Regions from separate parts of the Homo sapiens genome. Here region 2 is linked to region 1. The links come from fine-mapping of genetic effects on gene expression. A gene starts in region 1. The other region holds a variant in brackets. All regions are shown on one strand. Distances are between the middles of the regions.

Region 1 (10,425 bases):
GAGAGACTAGGTCCTAAAAGGTGTGGCTTACGTCTTGCTGGGTTTTTTTTCAGAGTGGGTGATAGAACACCAAGCAAAGCCACTCCTGAATTTCTGACCCACAGAAACTATGAGATAAGAAATGTTGTTTTAAGCCACTAAATTTTGAGGTGATTTGTTGGACAGTAGTATGTAACTAATATTGAGGTTCTCCAAACTTCTTGGATCTGTGGTTTGATGTCCTTCACTATTTTTGGAAACTAGCGTCATCATCTCTTGAAATATCTCTTTGCCCTATTCTCTCTCTAGTCTCCTTTTACGATTTCAATTACAGGTACCTCAGACTGAATAATGTCCTTCAGTGCTTAGATGCTCATTTGCAGTGTTCAATATTTCCCAAATCATCTCTTATGGTGCCCAACCATCTGTAGCAGAGCAACACCCTCTTCTCTGAGGGACTCCACAGGGCTGTTCTTCTAAATTCCACAATTTTAATAATTCCTCTTTCTTTTGTTTCCCCCAGCCCTAGAGATTAGCTGCTTCCTGAATGTACTACCTCTGTGATACTTTGTTTTATTACCTTTTCAGTTAATTAACCACTTACCATAATTAACAATGTTTATAGTAAACTTTCTCTGTTCAGATAACATGTATGGCTTCTGTTTCCTGATTAAACCTCAACTGATACAGAAATTGGTATGAGATTTATTTATACCAGTAAGTAAATCTTCAAAAATGGGAGTTTGAGATTGGTTTAGTTATGTCCTTGGGCTTGACTGCACTGCTAAACTCCTTGCTAATAGGAAGTAATGTTGTGAGCCATTGCATGAAATGGCAATACAATTTGCCAATTATTATCCCAATTTACTTGATCATGAACTGTTTTGCTAAAATTAGCACATTATAGACTAGCATTCCATAAAATACACTTTAGGAAATGCTTGCTTAGCCATACTTCTCTATTTAATGTATCCTCCCTAAACATATTAAGCATGTTCAAGTTGCTGTTCATGTTTTCTATAAATTCCTTGAGAATTCTTATTTATCAATTCATATTTTGATATCAAATTCATATTTTTATCAATATCAATTCAGATTTTACTTTAAGTGTTTATAGCTTTTCCTGATTCTGGACCCAACCCCCTCCCCAAAGGAACTAATTGGCTGCATTACTTTATACATACCTCTAATATGGCCATTGTCACATTATATGAAGTTGTTTGTTTATATATCTACCTATCCCACTAGAACGGGAGCTCTTTGAGGAACAGTCCTTGTCTGATTCATCTTTGTAGCTCAATGTCAATTAGAGTGCCTGGTATATAGTAGGTACAATTAATTTGTATGTGTAAAATTATTGAGAATGGTTATGAAGGCTAGCTATATTTACTCCCTTAAGAAAACTTAGAACACTTTGAATTTGCTGCCACAAAAGAGAATAAACAGACTTGTTTCGTTATTTAAAATAAATTGTTTATAGCAGTCTATATGTTACAATTTTCCTTCAACAATAGGCACTTGTTTACTTTTTTCCATTTTATAAATCTGTTCACTTATGAAGGCAAATAAATTCAGCTCAACAGGCATATACTGAGCAATTAACTCTGTGCCAGAAACTATGCTAAGCCTTATGTACACCAACATATAAATGCTTATAGTTCAATAAGGAGACAGATATAGTCAAATAAATTCAAGTATCACTGTGATAACTACAATAATAGAAGTATATACAAGTTGTAGGAGTAGTTTAGCAGAGGAGAAAATAAGCTCTTTATGAGGGGGGATTCCCCAAAGATTTTCTAACTGGAGTTTGAAAATGGAAAAGGAGTTTCTCAAGCAGACAACAGGCACTGGGTAAAAATCAAAGCATGGAGGCAAGAAATAGTAAAGTGTTGAAGACATAAAAGCAGTTTCAGAAGCACTAAGCACCAGATGGTTTGTGGCAGAAAATGAGGCTGGAAATTTAGGCAAAGGCCACATCATAAGAGCCTTCATGTCATTCTAAAGAACTTGGACTTATGCAGCAGGTGATGGGGAGACAGGGACGACAAATACCATTTATTTTACTTTTTCTGCATTGAAATAAAATCTGTATTATCATATATGCAACAAACATCAGTTGAGCCCTTCTAATACCTCAGGTATTTTGCTGGGAACTGGGTTATTCAATAGAGTTATGCCATTAAAGCTCACCATAAAAGACATTTTTGTTGATAAGGTAAATAGCCTAGATTTCATTTATAGTCTCTATCCTCCCAATTGATTCTTGGCATAAGCCTGCTGGACAGTATTTCTAACTCTGTTGCTAACGCGAACACCAACACTTTGAATCATTTCTGCCAGGCAGCAGATTTTTCAGCAACCCACTTTATAAACTGTAATTAGTTTTCCATAAAGAGCAAATTATTCCCTTTATTCCCTTTCTAAATTTCATAGCGCATATTATACTTTTGTTATACATACATACACACATACAATATCTACAAATTTCTATTTTGAGTTGGCCCAAAGGAATCCAAATCTTTTCAGGCTACAAACTCTTCTATTTAAAATAGAATTTTCTATTATAAAATAAGAAAATGAGAAAAATTTCCAAAATGAAGGTAATAGGCATCAAGAAGAGTAAGAAAGGTCCTTAGAAAGAAGAAAGAATGCACAAAAGAGTTAACAAATTTTAAGTACTACTGGTTGAGTATCCCTTATCTGAACTACTTGGGACCAGAAGTGTCTCAGATTTCGGATTTTTTTTAGATTTTGGAATATTTGCATATATATAATAAGCTATCTTGGGGATGGGACCCAAATCTAAACACAAAATTCATTTATGTTTCATGTATACTTTATACACATAACTTGAAGGTAATTTTATATAATGTTTTAAATAATTCTGTGCATGAAACAAAGTTTTGACTACATTTTAACTGTGACCTGTTATGTCGGATCAGGTGTGAAATTTTCCACTTGTGGTACTGGCACTCAAAAAGTTTCAAATTTTGGATCATTTTGGATTTTGAATTTTCAGATTAGGAATGCTCAACCTGTACCTAAGTAAAGAATACTAAGATACAAGTGCAGGTCTGGATATCAAATCACAGAATTACATGGAGAAGCAATACACAGATCAAATGGCCATCAGTTAATTCTGTATTAGAGGCTCAAAAGAACAAGTAAAACTTGAAAATTCAAAATCAATGATGGCAAAGAAAGGAATAGCAGCACCTTGTTAAAGACAACATTTTTTAAATATACAAAGCATATTCCCAAATGTGTTGCATATCAGTGTTCTCCATATTTGAAAAAATATGAAACACCTCAATGAAAACAAATGATCTGAAACTGATTGCTAATTTGGTACAAAACAAAAACTTACAGTTACCCCATTACCATGCTTGAATAAGAAGGTTGCTCAATTTGAGACTGGACATTGTGAAGTATTTTTCTGCCTGTAGAAATAGGCTGGAATGTCAGTTGTATATCTTGCTGCCAACAAGGGAACAGAAAAGATTTCCCAAGATTCTGTCAAGCCTGGTGATCCCATTTGTCTTTGGAAATGAAAGCCTAATTAAGAGACTCCCTAGGGACAGGTCAAAGGAGTTTTTATCCCCATCGTCCTTATCTTAGTTCCTTGATGCATTAGTCCTTCCCTTTAATTTAGTCTACCCTAAAACTAAAGAATACACATTGTGCAAGTTTCCACCTTTGCTTTCTCTACTGTAAATGCATTAGACTATTAACAGAATTACGAGTTTTAAATCCCACCTTCCTTATCTCTAAGCTGATGTTGATTTCTTAAAGTGTTTTTGAATAAAGCTTAACACTAAAAATTATTGTAATACTTTAATTGGATAACACTTTTTAAAAATATCGGAGTCTGACTAAAAGATTACAAAACCCCACAAACATCGTTATAATAAAGCTATTATGATAAATAATACTTTGTAAAATTTGAATTCGGTTTTATGTCCTAATTTCAAAGATTGTGGTTGCATGATATTATTTATCCAGGTTAAATTCCTGTTGGAATTATATTGACAGTGTTTCATTTCTTTGAAACAATTTTAGGGTTAAGCGTCTCTACAGTTAAAACAGAGAATATCAACTGTAGTCCCAGTTACTCAGGAGGCTGAGGCAGGAGAACCGCTTGAACCTGGGAGGCGGAGGTTGCAGTGAGCCGAGGTAGTGCCACTGCACTCCAGTCTGGGCGACAGAGTGAGACTCTGTCTCCAAAACAACAACAACAAACTTGAAGAGATGAAAATGTTCTATCCAATCATGATAATTCCGTGTGAGTTTTCCAATGTTTAGAAACACGTGTGGGCACCACTCCATCCCTGACCAGCAAGCTTCCTCCAGACCCACTCCACACCGCCATGTTAAAATGTCAACTTTTACTTTTTGGACTCAAACTACAAAATTTAACTATGTCTCCTCTTACCAAGATTCACAATGAACACCTAGGAGTCAAGGTAGGCTTCATAACGCTAAAGAGACCACGACTCTAATGACCACCCCAAACACAGCATTCCAGCCTAGCTGTGGTCTGCAATTACCCACTTCAGAGCCTCGGCGCAATGTCACAGCTGCAACTGATTGGTGTAACGTGCTTGTCATTCACATAGAGAGGGTGGGGCCTCAAAGCCCGATCTAAACCAGACTCCGTGTCTTACGTCATCGCCAAGCGACTAAAGCTGGAAGGGAGGGGGCGGGGTTGTGAGCAAATCTTGGTGGTGGTGGTGGTGGGGCGGCCTGAGAAGATATCATGGCTGCTGCCACGGAGCTTAATCGCCCGAGCAGCGGTGACAGGAACCTGGAGCGAAGATGCAGACCCAACCTCTCCCGAGAGGTGCTCTACGAAATCTTTCGCTCCCTACACACCCTGGTTGGACAGGTGAGAGGTGGCCTGAGGGACTGGGAATATGGAAACCATCCGGTCCCTCCTCGCCATTCTTTTTCTCTAGCAGAGGCCGGGGGCAGCTAGGCCTGCAGAGGTGTGGGATGCGGTCCCGAAGCCGAGGTGTGGAAGGAGCCCGGGCCCAGCCTCCTCGGTCGGAGTGAGGAGGACGGCGGTACCGGTTGCAGAGTCGTTTACCTTGCAGCTGTCCTCCCCAAGAGTGGGTGAGGTTGGCCTAAGTGAAAACCCGGCTCCGAGAGAGGCAGGCTTGGAGAGAATGAATGTGGAAAAGCTTCACTGCGAGTTTAGGAGGCGCTTAGCGTTCAGGGTCCTTTTTCCTCCAACTTACTCTTTATGGGAATTGGTTGGTCAGTAGGCCTGAGATTTATAGAAAAGCGCGCGCTTATTAGCTTTTTTTGGTGGGGGAGGGAGTAATTTGTTCTTATGAGTTACTTGGTTTTGTTTATTTCTTTTTTCCTTCGGGCTGTTTTGCGCATCTATAATCCTTTCAAATGGGGAGAAAAGTAAAAGGAATTCATTTAAAATACTTCTAGCGTAAAATGCTGTTGGCGTTAGAACTGTCGTTATTTAACTATTAACTAGTTTAACTGGCTGATAAATCGCTTTTGCAGAAATGTCATAGTAAAATTGGTTTTAAATTGAAATGGGCTTCTTCGATCAAGTCACTGTTTCGTTTCATGGTGTAAAATTCAAGTTTTAAATGAGAAACAATTTAAAAGTATGCTTGTTTACCTGCCTTTTAAAAGGAAATATTTTCTATCTTACATAGACCATTTTCTAGCCGTAAAAGTTTGTTTTGGGGCTGGTACTAGCGCAAGTGGACAAAGCAGGCATTTGTGTCAAAGATAATGGTAAATTCCTATGAAAATAGAACATTTGTCTGATTTGTGAAAATTATTTTTAAAGCCTTGAGTAGATGGAGAATCAGTCTTTTAAGAAGTTACTATTTTTAAAAATCGTAGTATGTTGTGTCTTACAAAGAACATTACTGTAAGTTAAACGGTTTTATGAAATGACGCAGTTATTAATGGAGTCTGCTTAAAGATATAACTTTTAAATTCAGTTGTTTGCCAAGTACTTACCAAAAACATTTTTTAAAGACTTGGGGTGTTTTGTTATTAACATTCCATTCTTAAGACCCAAGACGTTTAAATGGTTTAAAAGTTAGAGAACTTTTTATGGCGACGTTGGAACTTAAGTTTATTTATTTTATAATGTCAAGATGAAAAAAGTTTATTCTCACCTGTTAACAGAAGATGGAATATTTTTAAAAAATACTGAGCAATGATTTAAACATTTCTTTTGAAATATTTTGCATACTGAATTTTTCAAACTCATTAGAAAATTTTAAACATTCAAGTACTGTACAAGTAAAGAAGTGATTACAATTTACTTATGTCACCTGTCAAAAATGTTCACAGTAAATATTTGGTTACTTTACCATGACACAGTGAAGGGACCTCCTATACAAGTGTCAAAAATATGATTGTTTCATCAATTAAATACAAACTGTTTTCATAATACTCTATATTTTGAGAAGTGTTAAGAGTGAAAATTAGAGTTCCATACTTATAAAATTGCCCCCAGAGAAATCAGTATTTTCTTTTGCAACCACTTTAAAGGATATTTAGAATGTATGTTGTAACATGCCTAACTTCATCCTGTGTCATCCCTAAGTATCGTTGTATTATTAGATCTCCTCAGTAGGAAACATAAAACTGAATGTTAAAAATAATTTTTTACTTAAGATCACAAAATTTACTAATTTTAACCTTTTTGCTTGCCTCTGGATGGTCCATCTTACCAAGCTAAACAATTATTTATTTTTAGCTTGGATTTTTGTATTAATTTAGTAAAGTTTTTACTGAAAATATATATTTAAATAGTCTATATTAATAGCAGACTAATAGAGATTTTCGAGTGAGTGGTTTACTCTTCCAAGTTCTGTAGGGCAAAATGCATAGAGTTCATATTACTAATAATGAATTTGTTGAATGAATAGTTAGATGTATTAGGACAGTTTTAAAATTAATTTGTGACATTATGTGGTTTTCTTAAAAGACTAATTATTCTTAATTGCACTTGAAGCTTATGTAATTCTGCTGAATTGAAATGAGAATATGAACCAAACATTAAGACTTATTTTTCTATAAGTTATTTTCTCTAGAAAATGTGATACTTTGCTTTGGTTGAGGATTTGCCTGCTTTATCCCCAAGCTGTATTCTTAAGTTTTCTATAATCAACTATAGATCTCCTTGAAGACTATGAAAGTACATTAATGGGTTACTTCCATACATAATACAGGTTGTTGTCTAACAAAATCTTTATAGGAATTAAAGTAATATAAATTAATGCATTAACTTTAATGTACAATCTTAATATATTCTAATCTTTGCCAGTGCAGCCTACATGAAATTTCATATCTCTTTATACTTGTCTAATATGGACTTTTAAATGCTTCCATTCTCATCTTCAAAGGGCAGTAAATTTCTGTCACATAGTATTTATTCAATATATTATCTTTTTATTGGTAACCTTATATCTTTTTGATCTTTGTACAGTGATTCATCTTTTTTATTATAATTGTGACTCATAAAATCTGTATTTGAACTCACGTAACACCTTTATTTTGTAGAAAAGATGACTCATTTTGAATAAATTATGTTAACTTGATTCTACTATGAAGTATAGTCTTATACTATGCTGTAAACACATGTCCCTAGAAAAGTTTTTGATGGTTCACTTTTATTCATTCAAAAGACTGCAGATGGGCGCTCTCATTGTAAAATTTTCACTCATTTTGATAATAATCTTATATTCAGGTTCTTGGTAGTTTTCTGGATATGATTTTATTCTATTAGATCACCAACTGATAGAAATTTCCATATAATGAGCTGTCACATCTTAGCATTTACAAAAGATCTGGACATTTCATCCAGTCTGACAACTTATTTCACTGTGGTGGAGAAGTCTTTGTTTTTCAGCTTCAGACTTCCATTGCTAAATAATAGTTTTTTATTTGAAATAAACATGTTGCCATTTATCCCTACACTTTATATGTATGAATAATCTTGACTTTTAAATTAGTTTAAAAATCGGTTAAAAGTTAAAAAACTAAAAATGTGATTTGGAGGACATCAGAATAATGATATATTTCTGATATGTATTTGTGTACATACTTAAAGAGAAAGATGCATGTTAAAACTTTCACAAAACACTTGTACTTCCTCTGTTTAAGGCTCTGAGCTAGAAGTAGTAGGATTCTGAATAGGGCAAGCCTATATTGGACTCCATCCAAAGGTTTGTATATATTGAAGTATCAAAAGAGCCTTCATCTTTTCATCTTTCATGAATGGTTTTACCTCTAAAATGGTCCCATTACACAGACCTAAGAATAGAATTTGAACGACATGTCATTTTGTTTTTGTTTTTTTATGAAAATCTGTAGCTTTCTTGGCCTTTTGAAATGGTAACTGGGTAGAGCATTTCAGTGTATTATTAAAAACTTGATAACTTAGAGCAAAATAGACCCGTTACTCTAGAAATCTTATTTTTGTGACAATTCCATATGTAGAGCTTAATCGTGTAATTTTTGTGATGTTGCTGGTTTGCCCCTTTGAAGCTTGACCTCAGAGATGATGTGGTGAAAATTACAATCGATTGGAACAAGCTCCAGAGCCTCTCGGCATTCCAGCCTGCATTGCTCTTTAGTGCACTTGAACAACACATTTTATATTTACAGGTAAATTTCTTGTTAGAAATGATAACCCGATATTGAAAATAGAAATTGATTGTGGTTAAGTTAGTTGGAGTATTTGACAGTTCTAAACACTATATTAATAGTGTTGCTAATAAAACGTTATTTACATCCGGATTTAATCTAAATCTGTTAATTTCAGTAGTGATCAGGACAGTTAAGGGAATATAGCCCAAAAGACCAATGTGGGTATGAGTGAATGAATGCAATTCTATTCAATTCTAGACCTGCACTGAAAATTCAATACAGTTCCATCTATGGTGGGTTATAATTAAGCAATAAGACACGGCAGGTGTGTGTCATGCTATGATAATGATTCCATGCCTTGGGTGAGTTTGGAGGCTCATGGAGTGCTTTCAGTGGTTCAAGAAGGGGCATTATCCCAGCATGACACATCCTGGAGTGTCTATTGCAATTAAACAGTTTCAGCATAGTTTTTAAAAAGAAAGTAATTTCTATGACATTAATGTCTCATCTTAGTAAGTAGCCAGTCACTATTTTATCATTTCTTTTCCTTAACAGTTTGAAATAATTCATTCTTTATATTAGAAGTTAATATTGAATTGGTATTTATAATAGTGTTGTTATATTTTTAAATATTTCATGTTAATAACTGAACAGTATTATGACCTTGCTGGTTTCTAATTGAACATCTTTGCAATTATAATTGATGTAAGTTTGCAGTTTATCTCTAATCAAAGTGTAAAATGTGAAGTGTCAAAAAGATAAGTGGAAAAACTGGATTGGTCAGTTTACTGTGATTAAGGTGTTATAAGATTTCAAAAGAGTAGTATAGCGAACAATGGAAGCAAAATTGTAGGTATGAAAAAAATAATTGGAACGTTATTAGTGTTAGTGTGTTTTGACTAATGGAATAGGCATTAATTTTCAGCCCTCCATTCATTGACTTTGTGGGAAATTTTAACTGTTTCATGTTAAAAGTAATAGTTAACCCTGTTTTTAAAGGGCAGAGCAGTGAGCTCTAGAACTCAAATGAGACCTCATTGTGGGGAGTGGGGGAGGGGAACAGTAAATGAGTAATATAGTTTAAATTCTACAACAGGGGTTTTCCCCCTGTAGTATAGTGATAGGCCTCTGCCTGTTTTCAGCTATAGATCTTTTTTTTTTCTTGTTCGTTTTCTTTTTTAAAATTTAATTTTATGACCAAAAGATATCTTGCCATGTCAGGAAAAGTCTGAGTGTTCACTCAGCCTAACACCTATATATTTCATGTCTATGCTTCCTCATTCACATTGGCCAACTGCAGTTTCAAGTGGAGAATCTCCAGTGATACAGTGATAATGCAGGGCTTTGCTGAGTGAGAGCACTAGCTCTCGTGTTAAGGAGGAAAAATACTAAGCCTTAGTGTTCTGAGGAGGCATTTGAATGACATGTTAATTAAGTGGCATTGGTGCCAGAGGCTGAAGGCTTTGATTTGGCACAAAATAAAAGATGAGTGACAGAATGATTCTCTCAAAGAAAATTTTAAATTTCCTTAGGTTTTCTTTTCTTTTTTCTTTTCTTTTTTCCTCTCTCCTTTTTTAAAAAACAAATTTATAGCAAATGATAATGGTTACAATAGCAGAGAATAGTGAGTACTTATATGTGGTCAGATCTATGTGTCCTGGTATACCAACTTTTTATATTTATTAACTGATATTAAGTATTTCATTTACTTAGCAGAAATTTATGTAAATATATTAAGTGTGTAATTAATTTTGGTCAGATTGAACCTCAGCAGATGGAATTGTGTTGTTCTCAGCCTTTTTTAGCAAA
Region 2 (10,425 bases), 30 kb after region 1:
TTAGAGTCCTTTTTGTTTAAGCTTTCAGTGAATACAGTTAAGAGTTCAGAATTTTTCATTTTTTGCCCATAATAGCAAGTAGAAGAAAACAGAAGAATTTCCACAATTATTAAAGCAGAAGGTGAACACAGAGAGACGGAGGGCAGTACTCTAGACCCTAGATGACATTGGTGAAATTGATCATGTAAGCAAAATCTCAGACCATGAGTCTAAAGATGCATGTTCTAGATGAGCTTTCTCATACTCAAGAATGAAGGAGTGAACCATATATTTCCAAGGACAACAAGGAAATAGTATTTCCAACCACGTACTCAACGAGAAGAGTTTAATCATGCGATATTTTGTGACAAGAACCTGGACCATTTAATTTTGCTAAATGCTGTACCAGTATTTGATCTTTTATGATGTTTATCCACCAAAATTTACTTGACATAGTTCCTAAGTTGAAAAATGCTGAAGATAGCTATGTGCACAAAGGTGATTTAAAAAATCAAAAGATGTAGAAATGAAAAAAATTCATTCTAATTGGTTCTTATAAATCTAAAAATGAAAATGTTTTGCAATAATCGCCATCATTCAACAAAATTATGTCATTAAAGCTTTAGACTTTATTTTTAATTTTTTTTTTTTTTTTTTTTTTTTTAGAGATGGGGTCTCATTCTGTCATCCAGGCTAATTTCTGTATTTTTAGTAGCGATGAGGTTTCACCATGTTAGCCAGGCTGGTCTCAAACTCCCAACCTCAGGTGATCCACCAGCCTCAGCCTCCCAAACTGCTGGGGTTACAGGCATGAGCCATTGCACCCAGCCTGATAGCTCATTTCTTCTGAGCACTGAATCACTGTCCCTACTTTTTACACAGGGAAAGCAGTTTGCCAGCCTTGCATGTTTACTTTTTTAAAAAGCAGAAGCATGTGAACATTTCACAATCCCCACATTTTCTAACACTTTTATACATTCTTTGTGGCCAAGGTTTCCTGAAGGAAGTGTCAGGGGGAGCGGGGAAAGAAATCTCACATGTATTCAAATTTTTTTGGAGCTACTTTTAAAAAATAATCCTTTGAAAGTGATTTTATGTTGCCTAAATATATGATAGATTTTTTTAAAAAATTTGATACTCTTTTAAAAATTTAATGTTAGGCATTTGGACTTTACTAAAATCTTCAGATTTAAAAATTATATCTTAACTCTCATGCCAGGAAAAATAGTCATCACCATTTACCATCTAGTTCCAATGAATCTTAAAACTTTAAAAAATATACATTTTAAGGCCATGCGCAGTGGCTCACACCTGTAATGCCAGCACTTTGGGAGGCCGAGGTGGCCGGATCATGAGGTCAGGAGTTTGAGACCAGCCTGACCAACATGATGAAACCTCGTCTCTACTAAAAATACAAAAAATTAGCCGGGCTTGGTGGCAGGCGCCTGTAATCCCAGCTACTCGGGAGGCTGAGGCAGGAGAAGCACTTGAAACTGAAAGGCAGAGGTTGCAGTGAGCCAAGATCATGCCACTGCACTCCAGCCTGGACAACAAGAGTGAAACTCTGTCTCAAAAAAATAAAGAAAATATATTTTAAGTCATTTTATGAATAATTTACTGAATTATAAGGAAATAGTTTAAAAAATAAACTTTACTAGAAATTTTAGTAAGAATTTAAACACAGTAAGCACAATTTTTATTTTATATTTTCTTAGTGTTGAAGGTAAAAATGGGCAACGTTGGTTGAATGTAAGTAACTGCTCAATATGTGCCATGAATGAACCTAGAGGATATCCACCTTGTAAATAATTATTCCATGTCTCAGATATGTTTCTTTTGGGTCCCAGTTCCTTATTACTTCCATTTCTTCTTGTACTTGCATTGCTGAAATGCAATACCTCTCGAAACTTTGAGCCAACCATGGTGGCTCAAGCGTGTAGTCCCAGCTATTTGGGAGGCTGAGGCAGGAGGATTGCTTAAGCCCAGGAGTTTGAGGCTGCAGTGAGCCAAGATCACACCACTACACTCCAGCCTGGGCAACAGAGTGAGATTCTGTCTCAAAAAAAAATTTATATATGTAATATCAAACAATGAAGAGCCATGGAAGAAATTTGAATGCATATTACTAAATGACAGAAACCAAGCTGAAAAGGTTACATGTTAAATGATTCCAGCTATACCATAGTCTGAAAAAGGCAAAACTATGAAGACTGCAAAAAGGTCAATAGTTACGAAGGGTTGAGTGAGGGAAGTTGAGGGGTGGAGATGAATAGGCAGAGCACAGAAAATTTTAGGGGCAGTGAAAATACTCCCTGATACTATCATAATAGATGCATGCCATTATACATTTGCTTAGACCCATAGAATGTACAACACCAAGAGTGGATCAATGTGAAGTGTGAACTTTGTGTGAAAATGACATGTCAGTATAAGTCCATCAATTATAACACATGTACCACTCTGATGAGGGATGTTGATAACGGGGGAGTCCATGCCTGTGTGGGGGAAGGGCGTATATGGGAAATCTCTGTACCTTCTCAGTTTTGCTGTGAACCTAAAACTGCTCTAAAAAAATAGTCCTTTTAAGTAGGGACACTTTCAAAAATAACCCATCCTTACATGACAAAATGCTTCAAATGTTCTTATTCTTGTGACTTGCAGTTTTTGGTAACCACAGCACTGTCTGAGAAATCCAATTTATTGCAAGTACTATTTTCTTGTCTTTAAATGGCCTTTGTAGGATGGTCTTTGTCTTACACTGCTTTAAATCACTAAGAAATAGAATTTTCTTCCAAGTTATCTTAAAATTAAAAGTTTGAAATATTTATATAATTTTAGATTATCAAGTTAATAGAATTTTTTTTGCCATTCTAGAATTGTGAAATTAGGGGTCCATTAAAAAACTATAAACTTTTCAAACATACAGAAAAGTACACAAAATCATATATCAAACAACTGTGTCCTGCCACCTAGACTTAATAAATGTTAATATTTGCTTCAAGTTTTTATTTTTAAAGAACCAGGCCAAGTGCAGACATAGATAAAATCTATCCCTTTCTCTCTCTCTCTCTCTTTCTCTCTCTCTCCAGTGAGAATCACAATCCTGAAGTTCATATGCATCATTCTCAGGCATTTTTAGTATTGTTTTGTTTTTAACACATTCTGTTAATTACATATTTGAAACTTGCTACATTTCACTAAACATTGGTTTTGGGTTTTAACCATACTGATTGATGTAGCTCTACTTTACCAATTTTAATTGCTATTTAAATATCTCAAATGTATGAATAAACCAGAGTTTATTTATTCATTTCCCAAATAAGAGATACCCAAGTTGTTTCTACTTCTTGTATTTCTTGTACAGGATCCTGACCTGTATGTGGTAGCCTCTGGAGTGAGTAACTATCCCAGCATATAGCTTCCAACTATGGAAAACAAGCTAGCTAAAAGATTTACTAGAAAGTAATTTTAAAAGAGGGATGAAAATTAACAAGTTATTTATGTATTACTGATAAAACCATACAAATATCTAGCAGTAGATAGGAAAGTATAACCAACCATAAAGTGTATATTCGATTTTTAACTATGGCAATTCTGTTTCTTTCCTATATCATCTCAGTTAATTTAAACATCTAGGCTTTAATAGCCTGGGAATTATGCTTTGAAATTCACTGCATTGCTAAAGGACTCCAGCCTTCATGTGGCAGCCTATTAAATAGCAGCTATTCACTGCCTTTTTTTTTTCTCCTGCTCTCAGAATCCTGATCTCATTTTTCTGTCTCAATAGAAAGACAAGGGGTAGATGAACTCTCATGCCAATTAACAAATCTAGAGAAAAAATATGACTGATGCTTGAAAGGTCATGGCCTCTGACCTTTATTTACCTGTCTAAGGTAAAATCCAAAACAAGGGAATTAAAAGAGCATTCATTCTGTTAACTTTCGTCTCTTGGCTGAGACTATCAAACCAATGTGTTATTGTGATTAAAAAAAGGAATTATAGAAAGTCTATTTATTCATTCAACATATATTGAATAACAAGGACTGTGCTGGGGCTGGGAATACACTGATGGAATTTCTGCCCTCCTAAGCTTTAATTAGTGTGTGTTCTTCCCCATAGCACTGACAACAACCCCAGTTGCTTCTTTTCAAGAAAATTAGGGGGTTCCGGAAACACCCAAGAAGCATAATTAACATGATCAAGAGGAGACATGAATGAAAATAAGCAGGAGAGGTAAACATTATTAGGGTTTGTGTACAGTTTGAGTATCCCGTATCTGAAATGCTTGGAACCAGAAGACTTTTCTATTTCAGAATTTTTCAGATTTTGGAATATCTGCATATACATAGTAAGATATCTTGGGGATGGGACCCAAGTCTAAACATGAAATTCATTTCTGTTTCATATACCCCTTATACACATAGCCTGAAGGTAATTTTGTACAATATTTTAAATAACTTTGTACACAAAATGAAGTTTGCATTTTGACTGAGATTCCTCACATGAGGTCAGACGTGGAATTTTCTACTTAAGGTGCCATGTTGACGGTCAATTTCAGACTTTGGAACATTTCAGATTTCTGATTTTGGGATTTGTGATGTTTAACCTGTATTCATTATGCAGCTTTTGTGTGCAAATTACAGAAAACTTCTATTCAACTGGCTTAAACTAGGGGAGGACTTATTACTATATGTAAAGAGAAGTCCAAGTTGGTTAATTCACAAGCTCTGTAACATTGTCCCTGAGGACCTAAGTTCTCATGTTTCTGATCTGAAGCCTCTAGGCCATTTCATGGTGGCAAGATGGCTGCCACACTTCCGGGTACCATATCCAGATAAAACAATATAGGACAACAGAAGAAATAGACCTCTTATGTCTCATTGGCCAGAATTGTATCACATGTTTCTTCCTAATCACTGGCAAGAAGAATTTTTATGATTAGCTTAATTTAGCTCAATTAAAAATGATAACCCACATGCCCAATGTTCTCTATTTATAACTGGAAAAAACAATACTGTACAAGCCAACTAAAGGAGGACAAGCATTGTGTAAAACTCAGGAGTATACAGACACTGATATGAATGGGAAATTAAAATCTCTGTGTTAAACAAATTAAGAGATTTGCATTTGATATTTCCAGCTGAAGATACTAGTTACCTGCAATAGGGAGATAAGATTAACGTTGGAAGGTGCCTATTCTTCCATAAACCACAAATCTTCCTGATGTTTTCTTGCGCTCAGCAATAATTACAAATCTGAAACTTCAAATGGGAAATATAACAGAAATTAGGCATCACTCAATAGTTAAACTCTTATTCATTTCATCAAGGAAACACC[G/A]TTACCGAAAGAATACTCTTCTCCCTCAAGAAATAAAAGTATGTTTCTGACTGTTTTATATTTTGCCAATGAGTTGAATTTTATGTTTTATGTTAATTATTAGAGTAGAAGAAATTCTTCTTGGATAAAATGATACTGCTGACAATACAGCAATAATCCACTGAATTTGTAGCATATTTTATGTTTTCAGAGTGCTTTCTCATACAGTAATCTGAGTTACATCTCATTCTTACTCCGGGAAGGAGTATATAACAGTGCTGATTCCTCATCTTTTAGATGTGAGAACTGGGACATGTCAAGAGTTAAAAGATTACCCAAGTTTCATGGCTAAGTAGTTAAAAGATCAGGATTAAAACTGAATTACTTTATTCCTAATCCAATGTTTTTGGAGCAATTTGGCAAGATCTTGTGTAATTTAAAATTATTTGATGCTATGCAAGGCTATTTTAAAAACTAAAAATAATCAGAATCTCACTTCTGAATAAATTCAGATATAAAATCTTCTTTCAGATTTTATCTTCTCCAATCTCGCCCCAGCTATTAGGTCCCTGAAATTTAGGGACCTTAGATTTTTTAGGTTCAAATGTTCTTTTTCCAAATGGTCCTATCCCTTTTCCCTATTGGATATATATATCATATTAACTCAGAATTCAGCAAGTCTCAGCCTGGACCCTTGTGTGACTTTAAATCCTACTTTAAAAGTTCTGAAAATATTCAGAAAGAGCCAAAAGTCAAAGTAAAAAAGAACAAGAGTACCTAAAATTGGGCTGGAAAAGGAAAATTTGAGAAAAATCTCACTAGACGAGTCTAGCATAGGAAAAACAACTCTCCCACTTTCCTGGGTTTCAAGGAGCAGAAAAGCAAAGAAATGTCATGAAGCATCAAACAGCCCCTATCTTTCAACAGTGATGGATGGTTGACAGGAAGCTAAACAAAGCAGCAGCTTCAAAGAAAGAGATAATTTTTTAACTAAAGCTAGAAGGGAGGAGCAAACATTTCCTTAAGAGAATTGTGACATGTCTTTTCCCTTTGGGAACGCTGATTTAAGTGGAGATTATAGAGAACATAAAATTTACATCTCCTGCTTGGACCGGACTCCAGTATCCAGTGGCCCACTCAAAATCTCCCCCTTGGATGTCTGGAGTCATGTCAGCTCTCCACTTTGAAGACTGAACTCCTGATCTTTTCCTCTGACCTGCTCCAGTCACGTCTTTCCCATCTCAGTGCATGGCAACTCCCTTCTTTCCAGGGCCTTGGGTCAAAAAACCTTGAGGCCGTCTTTAACTCCTATCATACATTTTGTCAGAAAATGCCGTGGTCTCTACATTCAATATATATTCAAAATCTAACCCTCTCTCATCGCTTCACTGCTACCATGCCAGCTTGAGCCGCCATCATACTAATCCCTTGGATCACTGCAAAAGCCCCTTGTGGTCCCCCTGCTGACCTTGCCATTCGGCTCTCTATTTTTCACACAACAGCCAGAATGATCCTTCACAATCGGAAGTCAGTTCACGTCACTTCTTTGCTGAAAACCCTACAATGGATTCTCAGTTCACTCAAGAGTAAAAAACAAAGTCCTTCCAAAGGCCTACAGGGCCCTACATGATCTGCCTGGCCTGCACCACCCCCCTTCCTCGTCTGACAAGCCCCCTTTGACTCCTGAGCCTCACCACACTGGCCTTCTCACTGCCTGGATGGGCTCTCCTGGGTTACTGTTCCATATCCCCTCATATCTTAGCTGAAATCTTACTTTCAATGGGATAGGATTGCCAGACAAAATACTGGGCACCCATTAAATGTGAATTTCAGATAAGCAATGAATAGCATCTTAGCACATGCCCCAAATCCCCCAAATTTAGCATGGGACACACATATAAAGTATTGGCTGTATATCTGAAATTCACATTTAACTGGGTGTCCTATTGTTGTTTTTGACTTTTTTTCTCCATCTGGCAGCCTTACAATGGTTTCTACCCTGATCCAGGCACATCCCACCTCCCCTTCACCCCAACTCCAGACTCCTCTCACCTGCTCTATATATTTTTTTCCTTGTAACACTCAGCTTCTTCCAACAAACTACATAATTTGCTTAAATATCATGTGTATTGTCTGTCTCCCTCTTCTGGAAAATCATCTCCAAGTAACCAGTTCCAGCAGAAAGGCAAGATTTAATTTGTGGTTAAATAATTTTATTTTTCAGCATATTTTTTCCCACTGTGTTGGAGTTGGAAGTTTTTTTATGAAAACACATGGGAAAACATAGGTGTTTCTATCTTTCCACTCTTAATATTGGTACACATCTAATACGTAGACACATAGGTTAATATAATTGATTCCCATTCAAAGCTAGCCATGTGCCATGAACTGCAGTAAAGAAGTATGTCTTCCAAAAAACATACCATACACATAGTTGACAAAAGAGAGAATTCCTATGGGGGGAAATAACAGTTGCCTTAAAAAAATCTAAAACATTTTGATTGAATGGCCCAATTATGTCTCTTCTTTCATACCAGCCAAACACAGGTAATTATTATATTTAAAATTAATAAACTTTTTTCTGCAGCAGAAAGGCCATCTGTTGAACTCTGTCATTCAGTCAAAGCTATAGAAAATGTAACCACCTTGTCTTCATTTATTCATTGAACTTATTGTCATTGTTTAGCCGTCATGCATGAAGCACTGTGTCATACGATGGGGTGGGAAGAGTGTGAGAGGGACCCTTGAGAGTGAAGAACGGTCCAGATCTGAAAAGCCTTGCAAATCACTGAATCACTGGCTTAAGGAGCCGGTGGGAAGAGCAGGTGGATGGCCCGATCAGAGTGGCACGTTAGAAAAATCACTCTGGCTTCTGGCTACAGTGTGCAGAATGGATCACTATGCTCGGGTACATTACATTTGGTTAATAAGTTATTTTTGTAAAGAGGGTCTTAACCTCTAGGCCTCAAAGCAAAAATTTCAGAAAAGGGCATTGAAGAAGCCACAAACCCATTTTTAAATAACTTATTATGGCCTGTTTAAATATAGTTTTTAAGGTAATTATCTGTATAGCAAACATCTGCAATTTTATTCAATTCTGTGAATTTTTACTAATAGATAAGAGGCAAAAATGGAGAAGAAGGAAGAAAGAACTGGCAGGAACTAACAATTTTGAGTAGTGTATGAGGACTTCTCATGCATTATCTCATTTAATCCTTACAATAAGCAAAGAGCTTACTGTATTATTATCTCTATTTGCAGACAGGAATTTGAGACTCAGAAAGGTGAGAAGTCCTCTGTAAGAGACAGGGCTGGGTAGCCTGCCCTCATCCTCTCCAAAGCCCGAGTTCTTGCCTCTGTAACAAATGGCAGATACATATACAGAACAGCTAAGTTAGGCAGCAGATGAGTAGGAGAAAGGCTGAGATAACCTTGAGTAAAAACAGAATAAAGGGGAAAATGTATAGGCCAAAGGGGAAAATTAATCGGCAAAATAAAAGCATGAGGAATTACCCTCTTGAAAAGAGCAAAAAGGCAACTGGCTTCTTGAATGAAGAGATATAGAGATGATCAACTTTGAATTTTTCAGCACATTACAAGTACAACCGTAACAGAATTGCCATTGAACTGCAGAATTCAAGAGATGGTCTTCTTGCAGAGGTACTAATATTAAAGATGAACTGCTACAGAAAAGAAGCCTACTTACTAACTTACTTTACACAACCCCTCTCACATGCCCTGGTATTTGACATTTGCGCGTGAGGCTTGATCAGCATCATATCCTCTGAAAGCCAGCTGCCTTTAGTAGATATGGCTGCCTGGCAGGATAACACTCCTTGCTATAGGGAACAGAAGGTATCCCGTCCCCAAAAGAAACCTTCACTCAGGTTTATGCCCCCAAACTCTTTGGAGGGAGATACCATCACCCTGACTGCATGCCCTTTCTAAGACACAGGCTAATCCAGGGTTAGTTGGGCAGACAATGGTCACCCGTATATTGAGATGTGAAGAGCATGGGAACTGTCTCCTTTAAAGCAGCCTCCCTCCTGCCCAGTAGGGATCTTGAATTAATATGTGTGGTTGAGTCTTTACCCCACTCACTTCATTCATTTTGGGTACTCCCCTACCAAAAACTCCAGGGAATGGAGCACTGAACTGCTGAGCTGAGATGGGGAGAGTGTGGTGGGGAAGGCGCTGGCCCAGGGTTATCAGCCTCAACAAGGCCAGCTAGGCAGGAAGCAAGTAAATCTATTTAAGTAAAGAGGACAGAGGCTGCATATCCAACATACCACAGAGTGTTGTGTACATAGAGTGTACAATCGATGTTTCTTATATAATTGTTGAGGTGTTATGAGAAGTAGGGATTAGGTGTCAGTCCCCAAACTACTGCTTATTTGACATGTTTTTCACTAGTTGTATCTGAACAGGCAAAAAAATTGCTTAGTTGCGCAATGTGGTGATGAAGGTAATATATGCCCTTCCCATGGGATATGCTATGTGCTGTGTGTGAGCTTTTGTCTTCCAAGTATGACGGGATGTTTATGCCTCTCTACTTATTATTAGCAAGGTACCAAAGAAAAAGGTGGAAGAGAAGGAAGAGAGAGGCAAGACAAAAACATACCAATACTCTTAGCTCCTTCCTGGCCACTAAGGCTTGTGTACAACTTTGTCCCAGAGGCAGTGTTTATTGAAGAATAAATTTTTGCTGAGAGACTTAAAATCTAACTGGCATTAGCTACCTAGAGATGGAAGGGGGAAGTCTTTGAAAATGTTGATTTAATAAACTAGCCAGCAGCCAGTACACCAGATGAGAACAGAAGGAGGGGAGAGAAACATTCCCTCTGCCAGAGCATTTTGCAGATAATTAAAGTAGAGACTTTGACTCACAGCAGGGCAATTTTAGCATACCTGACGCAGGGCTTGACTCAAGCTCCCTCAGTGTCCCTTCCAGTGCAGTTATGCTATTAGCTTTCATAATATTCCACATAAGGGAAGACACGTTTCTTCAAGCTATTCCATTTTTCAATTATTAAAGAGCTTTGAGTTTAAAAGTTCACCAAAAAACCCATCATGCCCCATCTTGGACATTACCCTTGTCTAATGGGTAGTAACAAGATCACTCTTTCAGAC

The links. PIP is the estimated chance that this variant, and not a neighbour inherited with it, causes the effect.
Region 2: its variant is fine-mapped to the expression of MBIP in whole blood (TOPMed, PIP above 0.99).

Annotation. Positions count from the first base shown.
Region 1 is chr14:36,314,902-36,325,326 of GRCh38, reverse strand. It overlaps MBIP (MAP3K12 binding inhibitory protein 1), which reads left to right and starts at 4,690. Exons shown (of 9, transcript NM_016586.3): 1 at 4,690-4,867; 2 at 8,515-8,634; 3 at 10,412-10,425. The coding sequence starts at 4,739. RefSeq lists enhancers at 4,292-4,341, 4,742-5,001.
Region 2 is chr14:36,284,498-36,294,922 of GRCh38, reverse strand. LOC107984003 (a long non-coding RNA gene) reads right to left here. Exons shown (of 3, transcript XR_429356.5): 3 at 5,172-5,240. Among named protein-coding and RNA genes, the nearest start is that of MBIP, 31 kb to the left of the region's middle. The variant G/A (reference allele first, on the strand shown) is at 5,317.